Regions from separate parts of the Homo sapiens genome. Here region 2 is linked to region 1. The links come from fine-mapping of genetic effects on gene expression. Tissue or cell type: whole blood. Region 1 holds a variant in brackets; the other region holds the start of a gene. All regions are shown on one strand. Distances are from middle to middle. Region 1 overlaps NCF2 (neutrophil cytosolic factor 2). Region 2 holds the start of NCF2 (neutrophil cytosolic factor 2).

What was found. PIP is the estimated chance that this variant, and not a neighbour inherited with it, causes the effect.
Region 2: it holds the start of NCF2, and the variant in region 1 is the best candidate, but not a certain one, in a credible set for the expression of NCF2 in whole blood (INTERVAL, PIP 0.86).

The regions. Positions count from the first base shown.
Region 1 is chr1:183,558,550-183,569,779 of GRCh38, forward strand. NCF2 (neutrophil cytosolic factor 2) reads right to left here. Exons shown (of 15, transcript NM_000433.4): 7 at 10,593-10,636; 8 at 8,655-8,796; 9 at 8,371-8,439; 10 at 7,155-7,230; 11 at 5,456-5,481; 12 at 4,885-5,036; 13 at 4,646-4,757; 14 at 1,547-1,724. Among named protein-coding and RNA genes, the nearest start is that of NCF2, 26 kb to the right of the region's middle. RefSeq lists an enhancer at 9,194-9,253. The variant G/T (reference allele first, on the strand shown) is at 4,896.
Region 2 is chr1:183,585,385-183,596,614 of GRCh38, forward strand. NCF2 (neutrophil cytosolic factor 2) reads right to left here and starts at 5,075. Exons shown (of 15, transcript NM_000433.4): 1 at 4,772-5,075; 2 at 1,511-1,593. The coding sequence starts at 4,945. It also overlaps the pseudogene C18orf32P1. RefSeq lists enhancers at 5,095-5,354, 5,465-5,804, 8,425-8,484.

The sequences.
Region 1 (11,230 bases):
AATCCACTGCACCCGGCCTATTTTTATTTTTTTTAAGACAGAGTCTCGCTCTGTCACCCAGGCTGGAGGGCAGTGGTGCAATCTCGGCTCACTGCAACCTCCACTCCCGGGTTCAAGCGATTCTCTTGCCTCAGCCTCCCTAGCAGCTGGGACTACAGATGTGCATCACCACGCCCAGCTAATTTTTACATTTTTAGTAGAGATGGGGTTTCACCATGTTGGCCAGGTTGGTCTTCAACTCCTGGCCTCAAGTGATCCACCACCTCAGCCTCCCAAAGTGCTGGGATTACAGGTGTGAGCCACCAGGCCCAGCCTACCCTCATTAACTTTAAAATTTCCCCCTCTCTTTGTCTGTTGGATTTTCTGTTATAATTGATGGTAGTTTTTCACTGCTTTGCATTGGTAGTGCACAGACTCAGCGTATGAGCAGGGCTTTTATGATGGGACTTTTTTGTGTCGAGGTAGAGAATTAGGCTGGCAAACCACGAGTTGGAATGGTGCTTCTTAAGAGTGTAGGCAGTAGACCAGCATCACCTGGAAACTTGGTAGAAATGCAAGTTGGTGGGCCCCACCCCAGACCTGAATCAGAATCTCTGGAGGGTGGGCCCAGGAATTGATTTAACAAACTCTTCCAGGGATTCTTAGAACTCTCCACTTTTAAGAGGTGGGTCTTGCTGTGTTGCCCAGGCAACAGCCTTGAACTCCTGGCCTCAAGTGATCCTCCTACCTCAGCCTCCCTAGTGGCTAGGATTACAGGCATGCTGTTTCAATTTTTAGTCTGTTCATTACAAACAGAATCAAGAAAGTCACCAGAGACACAGGATAGTTCTGAATAGCTGGTTTTTAAGGCAAAATTTACCTACTTTTCTCTTTGAAAAGTACATTAATTCAAAGAACTATGGTTTGCAGAAGGTCATACAGCTTGATGCAAAGGCAAAGTGATTCCAGCCCAATTTGTTACCTCTGGGAATGAGAATCCATGGTTTCCAAAGCATACTCCTCTTTAATAATCAAGATGTTTATCGCCGGCCAGGTGCGGTGGCTCATGCCTGTAATCTCAGTACTTTAGGAGGCCGAGGCAGTTGGATCACTTGAGGCCAGGAGTTTGAGACCAGCCTGGTCAACATGGCAAAACCCCATCTCTACTAAATACACAAAAATTAGCTAGGCATGGTGGTGGGCGCCTGTAATCCTAGCTACTCAGGAGGCTGAGGCAGGAGAATTGCTTGAACCCAGGAGGGGGAGGTTGCAGTGAGCCGAGATTGTGCCACTGCACTCCAGCCTGGGCAACAGAGGGGGACTCTGTCTCAAAAACAAAAACAAAAACAAAACAACTCAGCTTCTTGTTGCTTTCCTGGCTACTAGAGCAATAGACAGGGAAAGTCTGAGTGCTCAACTTTGCTCCCTCCAGCTAGATGCTAGGAAGGGGGTTGAAAACACTGGCTAAAGTTTTGTTTGTAGATTATTGATATTTTCTTCTCTCTGCCCTTGACCTTGTTTCTGCTAACATGTAAATTTGTTTCTATAGTCTTGGAGTAGCACTTACCCTTTGATAACACCAGGATTATATCCCCTTCCTGAAACTCCAGGTCCTCTGGTTGGGTAGCCTCATAACTGAAGAGTGCCTCCACTTGGCTGCCTTTCTTAAGCTGAGGTTCTGTTGTCTGGTTATTAGCATCAGCTTTTTCACTTTCCTTGGGTTCATCTGGAAAGCCTTGGTCACCCTGAAATAATAAAGGGCCTGTTAATTTTCCCAATTTCCTGCCAAGTGAACACTGAACATCACTAAAGGAAACAGCGAAATGTCAAAGTAGAACCTGGGATATAAACTCATAAAGTTTGTGATCAGTGCCTTGTGTAGAGCTTATATGCTCTTTATGAATACTGGATGGTTGGGTAAATCAGTCCCCAACCTTTTTGGCACGAGGGACCAGTTTCATGGAAGACAGTTTTTAGATGAATGGTGGTGGGTGGTGGGTTGGGGGGTGGTTTCAGGATAAAATTGTTCCACCTCAGATCGTCAGGCATTAGATTCTCATAAAGAGCATGCGACCTAGATCCCTTGCATGCACAGTTCACAATAGGGTTCACACTCCTATGAGAATCTAATGCTGCTGCTGATCTGACAGGAGGCAGAGCTCAGGCCAGTATACCTGCAGCTCACCTGCTGTGCAGCCCTGTGCTGGCCCGTGGCCTGGAGGTTGGGGACCCCTGGGATAAATGAAACCAAAAGGTCTGCAAAATCATATACAGTCTTAAAATATCTTACTGAAACCTTACAATAATCTTGAGACAGGTAGAATGGGCATTATTATTTCTTTACAGATGGGGACAGAGCCCTAAGTCAAAACTGGCTTTCTTAGCATCAACTCTAACAGCAACACTAGGGACCTTGTTAGAAATGCAGACTTTCAACTCCATCCCAAAACTACTAAATCAGAAACTCCCTGAAGGTGAATCCTGCAATCTGTATTTTAAGTCCTCTAGGGAATTCTGATACTTGCTAAAGTTCAAAAACCACTGCACAATGCCATACTTGTTTTATCTGTAACAACATTTCTTATACATCTTAGACTTATGATCTTAGACTTCTTCCACATTATTGTCACTTTTGCTTCACAAATGAAGGAGAAGGATGCGGTTTCTACAGATGTGAATCATAGAATTTAACAAATCAACATTAGAAATGCTGCTAGGCTTGTATGTACCGAGCATTATAAGTTCTAGCTTCTTAATGTTGTTTGTTGAACGTTGGTATATTTTTATTGAGAGGCAATACAATGAGGTGGAAATGGCCCTAGAGAGTCCACAGAGAAAGGTTTGTATCCCACCTCCACTGCTTACCAGCTCTGTGTCCCTAAGCAAGCAGTGTAACTTCTCAGAACCTCAGTTACCTCACCTGAAATTGAGGCTAGAAGAATTCAATGAGATGACATACAATAATAGTAGTTGACATTTATTGAACACTTACTCTGTGGCAGTACTCTTCTAAATATGTATAAATATTTAGACTTGGTTAATGGTAAGTGTTCCTGCATAGAGTAGATGCTTAATAAATGTTAGTTCATTTTATTTTTCTTTCTTTTCTTTTCTTTTTTTTTTGTATTTTTAGTACAGATGGGGTTTCACCATGTTGGCCAGGCTGGTCTTAAACTCCTGACCTCAGGTGATCTGGCCCATCTCGGCCTCCCAAAGTGCTAGGATTTCAGGCATAAACCATACCAGGCCTCTTTTTTTTTTTTTTTTTTTTTTTTTTTTTTTTTTTTTTGAGGCAGAATCTCTCTGTCACCCAGACTGGAGTGCAGTGGTATGATATCAGCTCACTGTAACCTCCGCCTCCTGGGTTCAAGCAATTCTGCCTCAGCCTCCCAAGTAGCTGGGACTACAGGTGCACACCACCACACCCAGCTAATTTTTGTATTTTCAGTAGAGATGGGGTTTCACCATGTTGCCTCAGCCTCCCAAAGTGTTGGAATTACAGGCATGAGCCACTGCGCCTGGTTTTCTTTCTCCTAGTAAGTGAAAGCCTGCTTTGTTGCCTCCAAAAGTAATGGATAGTGATAAAGAACATTCAACAGTGACTCCTGAGCCTGGATTAAATTGCAAAAGATTGTGGGGAGTTGTAAGAGGGTTGGCTATGTGCAGCCACCAAATAGATTGAAGCTGCTGTCAAAGGAAAAAATTTTAATTAAAAAAAAGTTTAAGTGAAGTAGTTCACATTTAGAGCAGAACTCCTTCTAGGAAGAATCTTTTAAAAAAGATGCTGAAGGGGTTAGTCCAAAGACAGACAGCTGGAAAACCTAGAGTGACTTTTCAGACTTCCAAGAGACCCCTTACACTCACACTCACTCTTACCCCCAGGATCCTGGGGCCTTTTGTCTCAGCCAGAGACACCAGGGAGTCTCATCCCCAGTGGCTGTATTTCCTGAAGGCAATTTTCTGAACGGGGAAGATACCTTAAACAGCTTTATACACTGCCCTTTTCTAGGCTCATTCTCTTTCACTCTTCTTCTCCCAGCTCATGTCTGTAATCCCAGCACTTTGGGAGGCCGAGGCAGGTGGATCACAAGGTCAGGAGTTCAAAACCAGCCTGGCCAAGATGGTGAAACCCCGTCTCTACTAAAAATACAAAAATTAGCTGGGTGCAGTGGCAGGTGCCTGTAATCCCAGCTACTCAGGAGGCTGAGGCAGGAGAATTTCTTGAACCTGGGCGGCAGAGGTTTCAGTGAGCCAAGATCACACCCAGCTTGGGCGACAGAGTGAGACTCCATCTCAAAAAAAAAAAAAAAAGGTGAAGAATGGCTATGAGCTGAGCCTTAAGCTATGATATGACTTCATTCCAACCTTGCTTGACAGTAATGGATGGGATGTTTGACACAGTCAGGCAGGGAGCTGATGGAGGGGCAGGAGGCTTTCTGTGAGCTCCTGCCCTGCTGGGCCTGCTGTTCTCTTGTGGGAAACTCTCTCCCTGCTGCAAATGGGGTGAGGATGCAGGTAAAAGGGAGGCAGAGCTGTGACTTATTACACACCATATCCCCAACACCACATATAGTGCCTAGTACACAGAAGGTGCTTGATAAATTTCAAATTGTTGAGGAAGTGGCTCAGTGGAAATGTAACTTTAGATGCCCCTCATTGCACTCACCACTGTGTTCTCACACCACAGAGTCAGGCAGTAGTTTTTCACCTGGCCCCAGGCATCCTTCATGCTGTCTTCTGAAAGGGGCACCAGCTCATTGCTGTCCCGAGGCCGATAGCTGGGTGGGGATAATGAGTAAGAATCCAGTCAAAGAACATCATCACAAAAACCATCCTCCTCTTCCCTCCTCCAGGCCAGCACAAGGTTCCCACTGTACCCCTCACAGCTGCCTGCATGGAGCTCACCTCAGCTTAGT[G/T]TGTTCCAGCCGGAGCTCCAGTTTCTTAGACACCATGTCCCGGACCTGGCTGTAGGGGAGCCCGGGCTGAGTCTTCATGACTACCGTGTACTTGTAGTGCACCTTGAGTGTGTAGGGCATGGGAACACTGAGCTTCACTTCCTGAGTGGGGAGGAAACAAAGGGAACTCCTGAGTGTCTGAGGCTTTCTCTCAACATCCTGGATCACCGCAGTTTCGTGATTTGGCACAGGGGGTACCCAATACAGCAGGGGAGAGGCCAGTAAGTAACTGGTTTCACAGTAGCCTAAAAGGCCTTCAGAGGTCCTTTAGCCCAACCCTTGCTTGGACAGGAATTCCTACTGAGTAAGATCTGGCCCACTAGCTTGGGTAGTAGGAAGTGTGTGCATGATAGTGGAGGAGGCTATTAAGAAGGTCCCTAGCTCATGGACTCTGTAAGGTAGCAACTGGTTCGACCCTCCCTTTGGGGCTCTTCCTATAATCCAGACAGACATGTCTGTGGTTGATAGCCCAAGCTATCCCATCTTCTACCACTTGAAACAGTATGAGGGAAAAATGTTACCTTAGGCTCTTCTTTTTGTTTCTGGCCTGAATGGAAAAAGTAGGGAGTAAAACAAAAGAAGATGGTGAATGAACATCCTTGGCCAGCCCCTGCCACACACAGATGAAACCTCTTCAAATAGGGCCCCCAACCTCTTACCCTTTAATTTGTGGGGCAATTATTAACCTTAGTAAACTGTGGGGAAAATCTCGCCCTGGGGAAGCATGAAGGTCATGAACACATGAACAAACTCAGTCTCTGCTTCTAGGGAGCCTATAGGTAATTACCAAAGGACCAGCATATCCTCACCAACCCACAAGGTTAGCAGGGATCCCAAAGGTCAATTAAGCCCACGGGATCCAAAGCAATGAAAATCGGAGTGCAAGGTGAGCCAGAGGCCACAGGAAGAAGTATTAGAACCACTGATCCTCACCTTATTCTTTATTTTTGTGTATGTTTCCTAAAGTTTATTAATTTAATCTAATCTATTAATCAAGCAATCTAATATTAATCTAATTTATGTAAGAGTAGCATGCATAAAGATATTTACTATAGGGGGTACATGATCAGAGAAGGCCACTGATCTCAAACCTAGCTGATCATTAGAATCACATGGGAAGTTTTTTTCTAAAATACAAATTCCCGAGCCCCATTCCAGTCCTAAAATATCAGAGCCAGTAGCCTAGGACTCTGTATTCACAAAATCATCCTAGGTTTATATGTGATCCTTGATGAGCCTCTAGACAAAAGATAACAACAAAAAACCTGTCAAGGACATTGAGCAGGAGCAACGGGAGAAATTTGAATATGGAATATACATTATATAATACTATCATATGAATGTTTAGTGTCCTAGATACCATGATTCTATTGTGATTATGCAGGAGACTGCGTTTTTGCAGCTGTGTAGGGTGAAGTGTCACGAGTCTGTAACTTTTCAACTGGCTCGGGGGAGAAAAATAGAATGGAGCAGGGCGAGTTCATGGTGCAAAATGTTAACAATTGGTGAGTTTAAGTGAAAGATATTCTGATGTTTATTGTATTCTACTGTCAGCTTTTCTGTAGGTTGGACATTTTTCAAAATAAAAATGGGGGAAGGGACATCCCGAGTGATTCTGATGATCAGGCGCGTGTGGCAATCATTGATCTAGAATCTGGCCAACCACTCACTCTGCGTCTCTACCAAGCGCTTATCCAGAATCTGCTTCAAGTGCACTTCCCAAGACAGCCCTCTCCACACTAGGAAACAGCCTTTCAGAGAGAACATTTCCATTTCACATCTGCCCATTGGTTCTTTGTTCATCCTCAGGGCTCCACAGAGCAATTTCTTTTCCAGATACAGTGCCTCAGACATTTGAAAACAGCCACTCCATGCCCCTCAGAGATAAGCAGGTATAGTTACTTCAACTTTTCTTCCTGAGACATCGTTTCCCTACCTAATGATCAAGGGGTTTGGTGACTACGTGAGTCACTCAGGAACCAGCTGCATTCACCCAAGCCCCGTGAGTGTTCTGCAGAAGGCAGGGAGAGAGGGCACTGATTTCATGTTTGGGGTGGGTGGTGCAGGAAAGGGGGATTCTGGGGCTGCGTGGTCATTAGCTGAGTGACATGTTGGGAGAAGAAGAAACCAGAATTTCCTGGAAGGCAGGGAGAGGAACTCAGGAAGCAGCCTGGCATGCTGCTGCACCCAGACCTAGGCTGTGGCTCCAGGACCACTCACCTGGTGACAGCTGGGGTCTTCCAGGGGCTTTGGAACTAGGAGGAGCTGGGATGTCGGACTGCGGAGAGCTTTCCTCCTGAAGGCAACAGGGAGCGACGGTCAGAACCTTCATTCAAAGTTCCCAGGCAGGGGTGGATGTGGGGAAACACCCCTACAGAGACCCCATGTAAAGGAGCCACATGCAGATAACGTCCTAAAAGTTGGAATGGTAGTGACATTTGGGGAAGACGAAGGAAATGTTGGCCAAAAGAGGAGGTGGAGTTGGCCTGATGAAAATGAAAATCACAGTAGAAAGAAGAATCCTAACCCGCTAAAACGCCCTTGCCGCTTTAGCAACTCTTTCAGCCATATTGGAAATCCACTGGCCGTGGGGCAGGACTGAGCTCTTGTCTCCACTGCAGAGGGCATTGAGAAAGGAAAAATTCCACTTCTCATTTGCAAGGCATTTGAAGCTTTTCAAAGCATTTGGATATGGTGACTGACCAGGGAGGGCTGAGCTCATATACAACTGGTTGCACAGTCTAGAGACAGACAGTCTCCACTGCCATTGAGTCACTTACAGGGATGCTCAGATCTGACAAAGACAGCTCTCTAGGCCTGGCAGAAGGACAGACTTTTGAAGTGTGAGGGAGGGAGTAGCAGCAGTTTAGAAGCAGTGGCTGGCAAGGCCCACTCTGATTCAAAGCTCTAAGGCAGATCTCATTTTATTATTTTTATTTGTATAGAGGTGGCATCTCTCTATTTTGCCCAGGCTGGTCTCGAACTCCTGAGTTCAAGTGATCCTCTCACCTCAGCCTTCCAAAGTGCTAGGATTACAGCCATGAGCAACTGCAGCTGGCCTCATTTTCTTTCTAATGGCATTGTACCAGCCAACACATTGACTACTCTTCCACGTGAAGCAGACACACTTGGGAAGACCTAACCCACTCATATACTGTAGGCTTTGCTTCCCAAGTGACTTCTGACCAGGAAGAGTCACAGAGGTGGGTGGGCCCAATGGGACCTACAGATGCCTCCAACTTAGCACATCTGGGCTTTTTTCCCCTCATTCCCAGGTTCAGCTCTGGGTAGCTGGTGCCATCTCAAGGCGGGCTCAAGACTAGTGAATCTTTCTCCAGGGGTCCTGACAACACCTCTTTTACACTGCTTTTCTCCCCTCCAGGGAGAGATCCCTAAAGGGTGAGAGGAAATGGGTCAGGCCTTGGCATCACATTACCTGGGGCTGCTGCTGAGGGTGGATCCGCAGCTCAACTGGTTCAAGGTAGTTGCAGGGAACAAGCCCCTTCTGCAGTGCAGCACCACAGAATCAGAAAGGAAAAAATAAAGATGTGCTCATCAGTACCCACACCACAGAACAGCCCAGAGTCCTGGGGAAGGGATGACGAACAGACAAAAGAACTTGGCTGGTCTGCAAAGAAGGCAGCAGATACTGCTCCACAGAGACTGCATTTGCTGCCAGGATCCCATGCCCATCGCACCAGCCCCTGATCCTCTGCATACCTGCCCGTTGAACATGACCGTGGCCCAGTTATCATTGCCCTTCTTCAAGACAAAGACAATGTTCCCTGGCATGACCTGGAGCTCTTCTTTTGTCTCAGGCACAAACCCAAATAGCACACGGTGAGCCTCCCCTTCCAGAGCCCTGCAGAGGATAGACACAAGATCCAGCCCCCATCCCCTCACATGATGCCATGGCGCAAATACACTGAACTTGGAGCCAGGGACTTGGCTCCAGCCTGGCTCTAACTCCACATCTAACTGCAACTGCCGAGATGACACTGAGCCTGCCTGGGCTCCCAAGAGGTCTCAGCAAGAAACTGGTGTACACCTGCTCATAACCATATATGCAGAGGGGCAAGAATAAAGCAAAAACCCCACAACACTAGATAGTGAGGACTTACAATCCTTGCCCTCCCTTCTGCTCTGAGGAGGAAGGTCCCTGGCTGTGTCATCTTGGCCAGCACCCAAGGCTGGGCTGGGGTGGGGTGGATCAGGTGACTGTGGTCAGGGGAACAGCACAAAGCAGAAGTCAGGTGAGAGCCAGCTGGGCCAGAAAGATTGGTGGGAGAGGAGGAAGGAGAAACCACCTAGAACCAGTGTTGGGCCAGGATAGAGAGACCGTGAGCAGGGTAGGTGACAGGGAGCGTGAGGGATGCACATAGAGGGCTCTGAGGCTGCCCAGCTGCCGTGGTGCAGTGTCGGTTCCCTTAAGTCTGACTTCATGCTTTTAGGCTTTGAGGCTCTGATTGGCATCACTTTGGAACGTGTGACTGAGAGGCTGGTGTTCAGGTTTCAGGCTTCCCTCCCTTTACTCCCCACTCTGTTACTTTCCCCTCGGCCCATCCTTGTTTCCAGACATCGTGCCTACTCCTGTAGGGAATACAGGCCCTTCCAGCTGACAGGGAGCTTAGGAATGAGCTCATCCAGCCCCCTCATTTTTGTAGTTGCTTTGGTACTTTTGTCACTTTTTTTTTTTTGAGACGGAATCTTGGTCTGTTGCCCAGGCTGGAGTGCAGTGACATGATCTTGGTTCACTGCAACCTCCACCTCCTGAGTGCAAGTGAGCCTCCTGCCTCAGCCTCCCAAGTAGCTGGTATTACAGGCACATGTCAGTCACCACACTCAGCTAATTTTTTCATGTTTAGTAGACATGGGGTTTTGCCACGTTGGCCCGGCTGGTCTCGAACTCCTGATCTCAAGTGATCCGCCCACCTCAGTCTCCCAAAGTGCTGTGATTTCAGGCATGAGCCACACACCTGGCCAATCACTTTTTAAAACCTCCTTTTTGGGTGGGAGGACCAGGCTTGCTTCATCACTTTGAGAGAATTCTTAAGAAAGCTGTAGGTTATGTCACCCTTTGTTTTTCATCTTACAGAAGAAGGACTTCCTTTTCTTCAGTCCTTCCTCTTTACTTCTTCAGAAAGCATGTGCCGATAGGGAGTGGAAAACATCCACACAGGAAAAAGGACGTCATTCTAGATTCCTGACTCCAGAGAGCTCTGGCCTGCCCCCGTCAGAGGGGACTGCAGCCAGTGCGAAACCGATCTCCAACCTGAGGTCAGCATCCTGGTCCCCAGGGTAGCTATGTTCCACAGAACACCACTGCCCCTCAGCAACAACCCCTTGCCATGTGGGTGGCTGTGCACGTGGACAGAGGGCCAATGGGACACCACGTAGCTGCAGCCAAGCCCTGATGGCCAGCCCCACCACAGTCAAGACTCCCATCCCCATCATATCATTCCTTTCTAGCCTGACATTCTAGAAGACATTCTTCTAGGCATTCCTTTCTAGCCTGACATTCTAGAAGAAGCCTGACATTCCAGAAAATTCAACAAGATTTAGACCCTGACCCCACCTTCATCTTCTTCCCTCCCTTTCTTGCCATCAGCTCAGGCTTGGCGCTTGGATATTCTATTTATGGATTTGAATCTAACTTACCTGAAGATCTCTGGGGTTTTCGGTCTGGGTGGAGGCTCAGCTGCCTATTGAACATTCAGGAGAAGTGAAAACGGAAAAGGCAATGAGGGAAAGCAGGGGAGAGACAACAAACGGCTAATGGTAATTTGAGCATTCTTCCAGACCAGAAAATCAAATAACGCATTTCTGACTGATGAGAACACTGTCTAGGAAGAGGGCACAGTCACCCTGACTAAACACTGGGAAATAACACCTCCCACCAGCTCCCCAGGTACAGGTTTCACTAGCACAGCAATTCATTTTGAGCCAGAGCTAGTTTCTGGAGGTTAGCAGTCACACAGCAACATGGTGTCACAAGAATGCTTTGACCTTGAGCTCTGTCCTTTTCCCAGGACAGTTTCCAAAAGCTCTGTTCTGTAATTAATGTCTACTATGTCACATGACACTTCTGAGTATTTTTAAATTAATTTAAAAAAAATTTTTTTTGAGATGGAGTTTCACTCTGTCGCCCAGGCTGGAGTGCAGTGGCGCGATCTTGGCTCACTGCAACCTCTGCCTCCCTCATTGAGGTGATTCTCCTGCCTCAGCCTCCCATGTTGCTAGAATTACAGGCATGTGCCACCACACCCTGCTAATTTTTGTATTTTTAGTAGGGACAG
Region 2 (11,230 bases), 27 kb after region 1:
GGAGGCCGAGGCGGGTGGATCACAAGGTCAGGAGTTCGAGACCAGCGTGGCCAACATGGTGAAACCCTGTCTCTACTGAAAAATACACAAATTAGCTGGACGTAGTGGCGGGCACCTGTAATCCCAGCTACTTGGGAGGCTGAGGCAAGAGAATTGTTTGAACGTGGAAGGCAGAGGTTGCAGTGAGCCGAGATCGCGCCACTGCACTCCAGCCTGGGTGACAGGGCGAAACTCCGTCTCAAAAAAAAAAAAAATTCTTCATTAGCCTGAGCCAAATTCCTCTTCCCTAGAACTGATGCACACTGGTGGAACAGTTTCTACAAAGGGTCAGTTTCCCATGCCCCAAAACATTTGAAATTATCACTTAGAATTTTTTTCCTTTGTTATTTGTTATGAGGTATTTGTGCAGGATGAGAGGGAGGAGGAATTGAGATTAACTTTCATTTTGAATTTATTAATCTTTGTACTAATTATTCCATGTTGACTATAAACAAACCTAAAAATGCAGACAGGGTGATAGAAGAAAATGGATTTTCCTATAATCCCACCATCCAGAGAGAATTATTGATAACATTTTGATCTATGGCCTTCCAGACTTTATTCTGTGATACAGAAATGGGACTATGCTATATGAACTGTTTTGAAATCTGTTTTTAAATTTAACATCTGGCTGGGCGTGGTGGCACATGCCTGTAATCCCAGCACTTTGGGGGGCTGAGGTGGGCAGATCACCTGAGGTCGGGAGTTCAAGACCAGCCTGACCAACATGGAGAAACCCCATCTCTACTAAAAATACAAAATTAGCTGGGTGTGGTGGCGCATGCCTGTAGTCCCAGCTACTCGGGAGGGTAAGCCAGGAGAATCGCTTGAGCCTGGGAGGCGGAGGCTGCGGTGAGCTGAGATCGAGCCCTTGCACTCCAGCCTGGGCAACAAGAGTGAAACTCTGTCTCGGAAAAAGAAAAAAAATTAACATCTACTGCAAACTTTTTCTGTATAAGTGCATACGCTACTTACTTATCTGTAGTAATTTATTCTTATACATATAATGTTAATTTGTATTATCATTTTTGCAGCTGAAGTATATTTCCTCAAATGGATTAAACCAGGTTTTGGAAATGCATTTTGCTGGGATGAAGCCAGGTTTTGATGCAGTTTCATGATCATCCCCATTCTGTGACAGCTCAGTACCTCATAGGAGACCTACATGGGTGACCCCATCAGGGACACTGGTGGGGTGTCACACCAGCTGAGTATCAGGCCCATGGTGGTTACCTAGGCTCATTGTGCCTATGACACAGCTGATTTATAATCTGGTGGCAGACCTGCCTTGCCTCCCCAGTGAGAGCTTCTGCCTCACCTGCTGATTTATTGCATAACTGTCCCCAGAAGGGCCAGTCACATTTCCCAACAGAGGTTGGGAAGGTACTGCTCAAACACCAAGCCCGCAACACTGAGACCCCTTGGGTTTCTCTCTGAAATCCTCCAGTTGGTGCAACATTGAACCACTTACTTCTCTGTCTGGTAGTAGAGCATCCCTCGTTGGAAGTAAGCCACTGCCAAGTGCTTGTCTCGGTTAATGCTTCTGGTAAAGGCCTGAGGAGAGAAGGGTCCAGACATGGCCATGATGCAAGGCAGTGAGGAGGTGTGAGATGAGCCACGGCTCACAGAGCCCTAGCTCCCTGTGGTGCCCAGCTCTGCTGTCTGCCCTCGTCGGCACCTCGAGGCCCACCCTGTGCTCTCACGGTGCACCCCACTTCGCTCTCACATTTAGAAGCTGAAGTCTGGGACAATGGTGTGCATTCCTTGTATTGTCATTCCAGTTCTGCTGTGGATCTACAAAACATTCCTGGAGCCATACATATACCATCTGATTTCTGCTTTTGTTAGTCATATATGGCCTAGAAAAGCTACACAAGAATCCAATAATTCCCAGGTGCGGTTGCTCACACCTGTAATCCCAGCACTTTGGGAGGCCAAGGCAGGTGGATCACTTGAGCCCAGGAGTTCAAGACCAACCTGGGCAAAATAGTGAGACTCCATCTCTACGAAAAATTTAAAAATTAGTCAGATGTGGTGGCACATGCCTGTGGTCCCAGCTACTTGGGGGACTGAGGTAGGTCAATCGCTCAAGCCCAGGAGGTGGAGACTGCCGTGAGCTGTGACGGCACCACTGCACTCCAGCCTGGGCAACAAAGTAAGGCACCCTGTCTCAAAAAAAAAAAAAAAAAAAAAAAAAAAAAATCCAATGATACAAATAAAGACAAAGTGGACTATAAGGGTGCAGACACTAATGGATTATCACCAACAGAAATCTTAGAAGAAAAGAAACACTAAAGCATTTTCCCAAAGGAGCTCATCATTTTAAAAATGGACTTGACAATATGAAGCGCCTTCTTTGTAACTGTCTCTGACCTTCTCTGAGACTAGAATTCAGAATAGATAATTTAGACATTTACCTGATACTAATAAAAAATACATATCTATATTTAAAATATAGTTAGTTATATTTAATGACCTCATTCCCAAGTTCCTTTTTCATTAGTGTAGCTTTCATTTCTATTATCGCTGTTTTAATAATATGATTTAATATGATTAGATAGAAGCTTTGAGCCAGTAGACACTATGTTACTAAATCAGTACTTTAAAATCTTTGGTCTTCTGTCTTTCATTCATATGAATTTAACTGCTGTTTGCTCTAATTTCTTTGAGTTCTCCTAGTTTGAGTAGAGTACAATTTTACTGTGAAACAATGCAGCGAGACTGTGCTATGAAGTGAAGGTAGAGTTTTTGGAGGTGATAATGATGTCAAACTTAAAGATACAATTCCTATCCAACACAACAGAGCACCTTGTCCAGGAGAGTAGTAATTACTATTTATTGCTCTGTGGAAGATAAAAAAGATAGGGAAATAGGAGAAGCTTCTTTGAAAAATGAAACATCATTAGACGGGCTTGGTGGTGCATGCCTGTAATCCCAGCTACTTGGGAGGCTGAGGCAGGAGAATCACTTGAACCCAGGAGGCAGAGGTTGCAGTGAGCCGAGATTGCACCACTGCACTCCAGCCTGGGTGACAGAGTGAGACTCCATCTCAAAAAAAAAAAAAAAGAAAGAAAAAATGATATCTAATGTAATAATGAAATTTTAACCCTTGTTGCATTTCTTGTATTCCTATGAATGTATTGAACATTCAGTTTAAATAAATAATAAAATTTATTGCAAATGAAAATAATTAAAATATTATATAAATTGTTATATTTGTTTACTATACAAACTTATACATGAATAGTATACAATTAAAATGATAATGAATAAGAATGCATATAAATGCTAGTAGGAAGGGCTCAAGCAGGAAAACAAAGAAAGGCAGAAGGAATGAGAAGGCTAGAAGCAGAGGAATGCCAGGAGAAACAGAGACATGTGGGCCTGAAGGCCTGGGAGCTGAGAAGTGAGTGGTGGCCCACACAACCTTGCCAAGGATCCCATATCCAGGCCAAGGCAGGAGGCTACAGTCCCTGCTGGCATAGCTGTGCCCAGACTAGCTGCCAATCTCTTCTCCTGGACAATGTGCACTTTGTGTCCATCAGCCCTCAGAATGTGTGGTGCTGTTCACTCAGCCCCTCAGCAGGCCCCTGAGAGGAGGTGGGGCCATGTCCTTCCTCCAGCCAGAGGTGGGGGGTCCTGCCATGCTCTGCCTTAGAGCCTGAGATTGACTTGTCAAGCTATGTGAGAACATTTCAGTCACTTCTCTGTCTTCCTGTCAGGAGGGTGTGGCTGAGGCTTGTTTACCTACTGTTGGAGTGTGGAAGGGACTGATTCTTTAAGGGACCTGGGGAGTCAACCACTGCCACACCTTGCAAAGACTGGCAGTAATCGGTAAAAATAATAACTAACTCTTATACAGTGGTGTGAAGTTCCACGAGACATTAATAGTTTGGCATCTCACTTAATTTTCATGATATTTAGAAACTCAGGAAGCTGAAAGCCAGATGTCTACATAGGCTACATAGCTTGCTTAAGACTAAAAGTCCAGAGAGAGACAGAGGCTAGGATTCGATCCTAGATCTTCTCCTTCCAAACTCCATACCCTTTCCACCTTACCACAACCAATCAAAAAAATAATTATCGAGAATGCTTAACTCCATACTATGGTATTTGAGTGAGAAAACATAACGAAAAAGATGCGAGACATCCCACACCATGCCCCCAGCAGACATCACTAGTCAATCACAGTACAATTTCCTCTTGCCAGCCTCAGCATCTTTAAAAGAGTCTCCTTTATAATTGATCAGAATTGTCACTTGGGATAAAAGCTATTTTTTGTAAGTGCCTCCCTTAAATCTCTTGAGCAGGCAAAGTCGACACACATGAAAGTCTTGGAAAGCCAAAAGAGGTGCCTTAGAATCAATAATCAGGTGTAAAGCGCTGGGATAGATAGAGATTCTGTGCCCAGAAGGAGTTCTGTGTAGAAGAAAGTACGACTAGGACAGCCTTCACAAAGGTGTTAAAGACACTTGTAGAATGATTTTAATTTAGAAGATGGAGAAAGAGGCAACCCTGGCTGCCCCTCACCTGCTCTCCACCTGGAGAGCTTTTAAAACTGGCTGCCTGGGGCCCCTCCCAGACCAGTTAAATCAGGCTGTCTAGGGGTGGAGCTTGGGCAACTTTTGTTCTTTTCAATCTCCCCAGAGGTTAGGTTTCCGAAATGCAATGGGGTTGAGAATCATAATAACAAATGCACAGAGGAGGCCCGGAAAGAGGCACCTCCACTCACCTTCTCTGCTTCAGTCATGTTCTTCAGGATAGTGTACATGCAGCCAATGTTGAAGCAAATCCGGGAGTGGGGGTCCTGGACGGCACTGAAGGCATCCAGGGCTCCCTTCCAGTCCTTCTTGTCCGCTGCCAGCACCCCTTCATTCCAGAGGCTGATGGCCTCCACCAGGGACATGATTAGGTAGAAACTAGGAGGCCAAGAGAGCTGCCAGGAGACAGAGAGAAGACAGGTTGGAGCGTCTCCCCTAGCAGGGCTGCCTTAGTGGCCCCCAAGGTGTTCACTTTCTGGGCCAGATGAGTAGAATGGGGCCCAGCCTCCCTTAAGATAACTTCTCAGTGTTGCAAATGCATCAGGAAATGTCCCCACCTTTTGGCAACTGACTCATAACCCTACCATGAGAGAGAAAAGGAAAGAAGCAGAGAGAGAGAGGGCGAGTAGGGGTGGAGTGTGGAGGAGAGAGGAAGTACATCAGCTGCTGCCTGAAGGATCAGTTCCCCAAAATGCTTCTGCTCTGTCACCCAGCTCCTCTTCTCTCTCCCACCCCTGTTCTGTGGCAGCTTCTGGCCAAAGTTCTGCTTCTAGAGCCAGGGTAACCTTGGCAGGTAGAGGCACCTCCCTGGTGATAATGACAGGAGGCAGCCAAATGCCTAGGCAGATAGGGGCAGGTCCCTGGTGAAACCCCACCTTCAAGCCAAAAACAGCCTGAAGGCTGAAAGACTAGGCTACTGGTCCCAAATGAAACCCGTGACCTAGAGTGAGAACTTCTGTTCCTGTTTGTCTGCTCTTTCCCAATTAATTATTTCTGACTAATGCCTTTTAACCAATTGAATGTTGCCTTTTCCAGTACTACCTATGTCCTGCCCCTCCCCTATTCTGAGCCCATAAAAGCCCCAGACTCACCCGCACTGGGGGGACTTTCCTGCCTTTGGGTAGGGGAACCACCCCTGCATCCCCTCTCCACTGAAAGCTGTTTTCATCACTCAATAAAACTCCCCACCCAGGCCGAGTGGGCAGGCCATCTCCTGCAGCAGGTAGTGTGGCCCACTGAGGCCTGGGCAGGGTGTCACCAGCCAGAGGTTCCTGGCTTACAAAGTGATGGAGAAAAAATCCTGTGTCACTGGGCCTTGATTTCCACACCCTTGTTAAATGGGAGTGTCAGATGAGAGGATAATTCTTTCCAGTCTTGAATGAATTCCTTGCTCACTTTTTTGTAATCCCATAGGCTGTATTAATATGTTAGTGTTTATCTTGAGCTGAAATTATCATTAACAAATTTTTGAGACAGGATAATCTTTGGAGATCCATCTGATCTGGGCCTGAAATAACTTTTTTTTTTTTTTTTTTGAGACGGAGTTTCACTCTTGTTGCCCAGGCTGGAATGCAGTGACACGATCTCAGCTCATTGCAACCTCTGCCTCCTGGGTTCAAGCAATTCTCCTGCCTCAGCCTCCTGAGTAGCTGGGATTACAGAAGCCTGCCACCACGCCCTGCTAATTTTTGTATTTTTAGTAGAGATGGGGTTTCACCATGTTGGCCAGGCTGATGGTCTCGAACTCCTGACCTCAGGTGATTCGGCCTCCTCGGCCTCCCCTCAAAGTGCTGGGATTACAGGAGTGAGCCACCGTGCCCAGCCGAAATAACTTTTATGAACATTCATGAAGTTCAGAGGGGACCAATTTCCTGCAAATGTCAAAATTGGGAGCCACATGACAGTGAATTATGACTTCTCCCATCTTCCAGTGAAAAATTGAAGAGATGAAAGTCCTGCACTGATGACTAATGGATTTACTAGTCTCTGAAAAAACAGATTTAAGAGTTCTTTCCTTGCTTTTCCAGAAAAGTAAAAATCAGTAAAACCTCCCAGAGGAATAACTGGGGGTAAAGGGTATAGCCAATTTGGCTTGCTAAAATCCAGGCTTCTTTTTAGGTAAAATGCATGTTTATGGGGGTCAAATACTTAGATGCAAACTCTTGTTTTGTAGCAACTGAAAGAATTCACTCATTATCACCAAGCTTCCCCTAAAAGCCTGAAAATAAAACTTAAAAATGTATACTCCACAGTGCTTGTAGGATTGAAGGTGTGAGAATTAAGAAGACATGTGTGTCTTTGTCCAGATTGTTTTCCTGTGTTTACAAGGCCTTCCCAGCTCTCTTCTTTGCCTGGCAAACTCCTACTCATCTTTCAAAGCCCAGTTTAAATGTCACCAACTGTGCTAAATCTAGCCCTGAACTCTGGGTAGTAGGAGAATTTTCCTCTCCTTTGTACCACCTTTACCCAAAAACTTGCATCATACTTACTGCAATTTATCTCTTTATCTGCTCAATTCATGGGCTCCTTGGAAGTTGGGACCATGCCTTTTCATTCTAGGATCTCTAGCACAGATACTCAATACATGATGAAGGGATACATTCTAAAAGAAATTAGAAATCATTGGTAAATGACCTGCAGGTAGCAGTGATGGCAGAAAGAGGTATTGCTATTCCATCTAGTGAATAAATAATCAGGACTTGAATAGCACATTAATTATTCCTGAGAAAACCAAATGGATTTGTAGCTAAATTAGACTTCATTTTTAAAAAATGTTTTTGCCCTCCTATTATCCCACCCTGACACTCAGAACTCTCCTTAATCTGACTGCCAAGACTTTTCTAGCCTTATCCCCAGAACTTTCCTTCACAATCCCATACAAACTCTGCTGCTTACTCTTCTCCCGCTATGCCTTCATTCCTGCATCTGTGCGACTCGTGCTAGTTCCTCTTTCTAGGCTGCCCTCTCCCATGTCTGCACCTTCAAACCCACCTTGCATAGCCTTCGAAGGCCTGCTAAAATAGCACTCTCCTTAACACACTGCCCTGAAATCAGTCCTGCCTGAAAGCGCTCAAACCCATGATCTCGCCTTCTGAACTCCTGCATCTCCTTCTCCGCACCTCCCATGTGGCCCTTAATCACTCTTCACCAATGTATGTGCATGCAAGTCTTAGCACCTCAAATAGTGTGCCTCAGGAGGAAGTCCTGGGCTAACCCATGTTTGTATCCCCCAGGGCACTAGCAAAGCCATTCATGCTCCATTTCATCCACTTTCCCTCCCCTTCTCCTGTCACCACTCAGGCCAAGCCACTATCAACTCCCAGGTGAACATGATAGTCTTTTAACATTTCTTTGCCTCTCCATCCAGATTGAGCTTTTAAAAACACAAGTCAGATCACTTCATGGCCCCTGTTTTTAAACCTTCCATGGCTTTGCACTGCTCTCAGGATATAACCCGAACTCCTTCCCATGCTGCAGGAAGCCCCCTGCCTGCTGCCCTGTGCTCATTCCAGGTCATTTCCCCTCCTCCTCTCCCAAGAACTCCAGCTACACAGGCCTCCTTTCATGGTTTCATATGAGCCAGCCTCTTCCTCCGCCCATGTAACACTCTTCCCCCAAGCCTGCCTGGCTAGTTCCTACTCATCTTTCACTTCCTCAATGAGTGGCCTTTCTAGATCCATGACCTTGCTATGTGCACGGTTCTCTCTGATCATGTATTTGTTACAGTTTGTAACTGTATGTCATCTGTGACATTGTTTCTGTCCCTCAATGCAGGGGCAGTCTATTTAATCATTACTTGGTGCTGTTAGTAGACGGTCTGTTCAGCCACTGTCCATTCGCCTTCCTCCTTTTGGTAGAACCCCAGTTCTGTTCAAGCCTCCAGTTTCCTGAAGCCATGCGCTTCAGGAGGGAAAGTCTGCTAAGAATTTCTGGGAAAGATTTCTTCCCCAGTGATAAAAAATAAAACACATGAGAAGAAACAGCACTTGTTTCTCTACTAGACAGCATTGTGAGATGTGTCTGGAATATGGCAGCTGTCTTATAATCATGAGGGGAGACAACTAAGAACAAGCCATTGTCTGAAAGAAAAGAGAATGGAAAATTACAAAGAGCTCAGATGCTTAGTTATGCTGATGAGATGTGTTGCATTATCTGTTTTCTGCAAATCTGGCTGGGCACAATGGCTCACATCTGTAATCCCAACACTTAGGTGGGAAGATCCCTTGAGGTCAGGAGTTAGAGACCAGCCTGGGCAATGAAGCCAGACCCCATCTCTACAGAAAAACACTAAAAATTAGCCAGGCATGGTGGCACATGCCTGTAGCCCCAGCTTCTCAGGAGGCTAAGGTGGGAGGATCATTTGAGCTCAGGACTTCAAAGGCTGCAGTGAGTGATGATCACGCCACTGCATTCCAGCCTAGGTGACTGAGCAAGACTCCATCTCTTAAAAGATAAAAATAACGTTTTCTACAAGTCTGAAACTGATCTACCTTGGAATTTCTTGTTTGGTTAGATAATAAGTTTGTTTATTGTTTAAGTCATTCATATCAAGTTTTCTATTAGTTATGGTTTAAAATGTTCTGACACACACACCACTGGATTCTCGGTACCTAGTACAGGGCTTGGCATATAGCAGGTGTTCAATAAACATTACTTGTTAAATAAAATTTGTTGAGGCATTGGTTGGGTAACTCAGTTTCATCTCGATATTTTCAAAATTATTCCAAAATTCCAAATAAGCAAGATTTGCATATGATTGGTTAACACTACAAACTACTGTTGCATGTATTTATTCAGCTGGAAGCCAAGAACACTCCCAAGACCCTCCTTTTTTTTTCTGAGGAAGAAGCCTGTAAAATCAAAATAAAACTCATTATTCCTGGGCACTCAGGAAATACTTTTTCATTCCTACATTTAGATTTTAGTGTTCTATCGCTCTTTAACTTTTTCTGGTACATGAGACTTCTTTCTTAAGCTCCTCAAAGGATAGAGCCAACTCTCCACTGTCCTTCAGTCTTTCGCCATGTTTAGCACGTAGTAGCTGCTCCGTGATCATTGGCTAATTAATTAAATGAACTGAAAAATGAGAAAACTGAATCCTACTTGGAAAAATATAATTTTGTAAAGTTTGTCAGTATCATGTTAGTTGCATAAAGTGAGGTACATTTAGACTAGTAGGGAAAAGAACGCACTTTTTTGCCGTCAACTCTAACATTGAGTAGATAGTTTCATTGAGTACAAGACAGGAAACCCTGAAGGAGGCAGGGAGGAGACCTCATTTATTAGATATAAACTTGGCCTGGATCTCACATGAAGGATACAGAAAAGTCAACAGGGGTCCTGTTGTTCAGCAATGCTATTGAAAGCCTCAGGGCTTGAAATCGTCTTTCTCCAGGAAGGCAAGTTAGTCCTGTCTAATCTGTCGTTGGGTTGGTTTTCCGTTGCTGCATGACAAATTACCACAAACTTAATGGCTTAAAATAACACACATGTACTATGTCACAGTTTTCATGGGTCAGGAGTCTGGGCACGGCTTAGTTGGGCCCTGTGCTCAGGGTCTCACAAGGCTGAGATCGAGGTGTTATCTAGGCTGCTTTCTCATCTGGAGACTTGACGGCATCTGCTGCCAAGCTCCCTTGGTTTGTTGGTGGAATTCATCTGTAGCTATAGAATTCATGAAAGCTTCCTTCTTCAAGGCCAGCAATGGAGGCAGAGAGAATCTCTGCTTCATTAAGTCTCTTACCTCTAGACCTTCTCTTAAAGGAGTCACCTGATTAGGCCAGGCCCACCCAGAATATTCTCCCTTTTGATTAATTTAAAGCCAACTGCTTAGGGATGTTAATCATCTCTGCAAAAATCCCTTCACCTTTGCCATGTTCTATTGATTAAAAGCAAGTTACAGGTCTCTCCCACTCAAGGGGAGGGGATTACACAAAGGCAAGGATCATCAGGGATCATCTTAGAATTCCACCTGCCACACCTCAGCAGCTCCAGTCTTCTTCCCTGACTTACCAGTGAGATTAATTATTCCTGCCATGTGCACTCAAGGAGGTTTCTCTCTACCTCTCCTAATGTGTGTTCAAGCACATGTGATTGTAATTACTTGTTTAAACGACTGTCTCTCAACTAGACTGTAAGCCCCGAAAATACAAGATCTGTGTCTGATTTTTCCACTGTATCTTTTGTGCCCATGATATGGTGGATTTTTAACATATCTGTTAAATAGCGATGCCATGGAAGGTGCTTTTAAAGTCAGTGTGATTACTTAATTTGCTTGGCTAAATATATGTGTCCTAGCATCCTAGATGAAAATGAGGGAATGTATAATGCCTATTCATTTAAAGACACCTCATATTAAGCACTCTTTTTCATATTTGTACCCTTTACACACACAATGTCTAGTACCTGCATAGGTGGTCACTCAGTAAAAGTTTGATGAATAAATGAATGAATGCATAGAGATTAAAGATCTGAATCCTGAATGAAGCAAGTAAATACACTGGATCCTCACTATAAATTGTCCTTTGGGCCAGGCACAGTGGCTCACACCTATAATCCCAGCACTTTGAGAGGCCAAGGTGGGCGGATCACGAGGTGAGGAGTTGGAGACCAGCCTGACCAACATGGTGAAACCCTGTCTCTACTAAAAA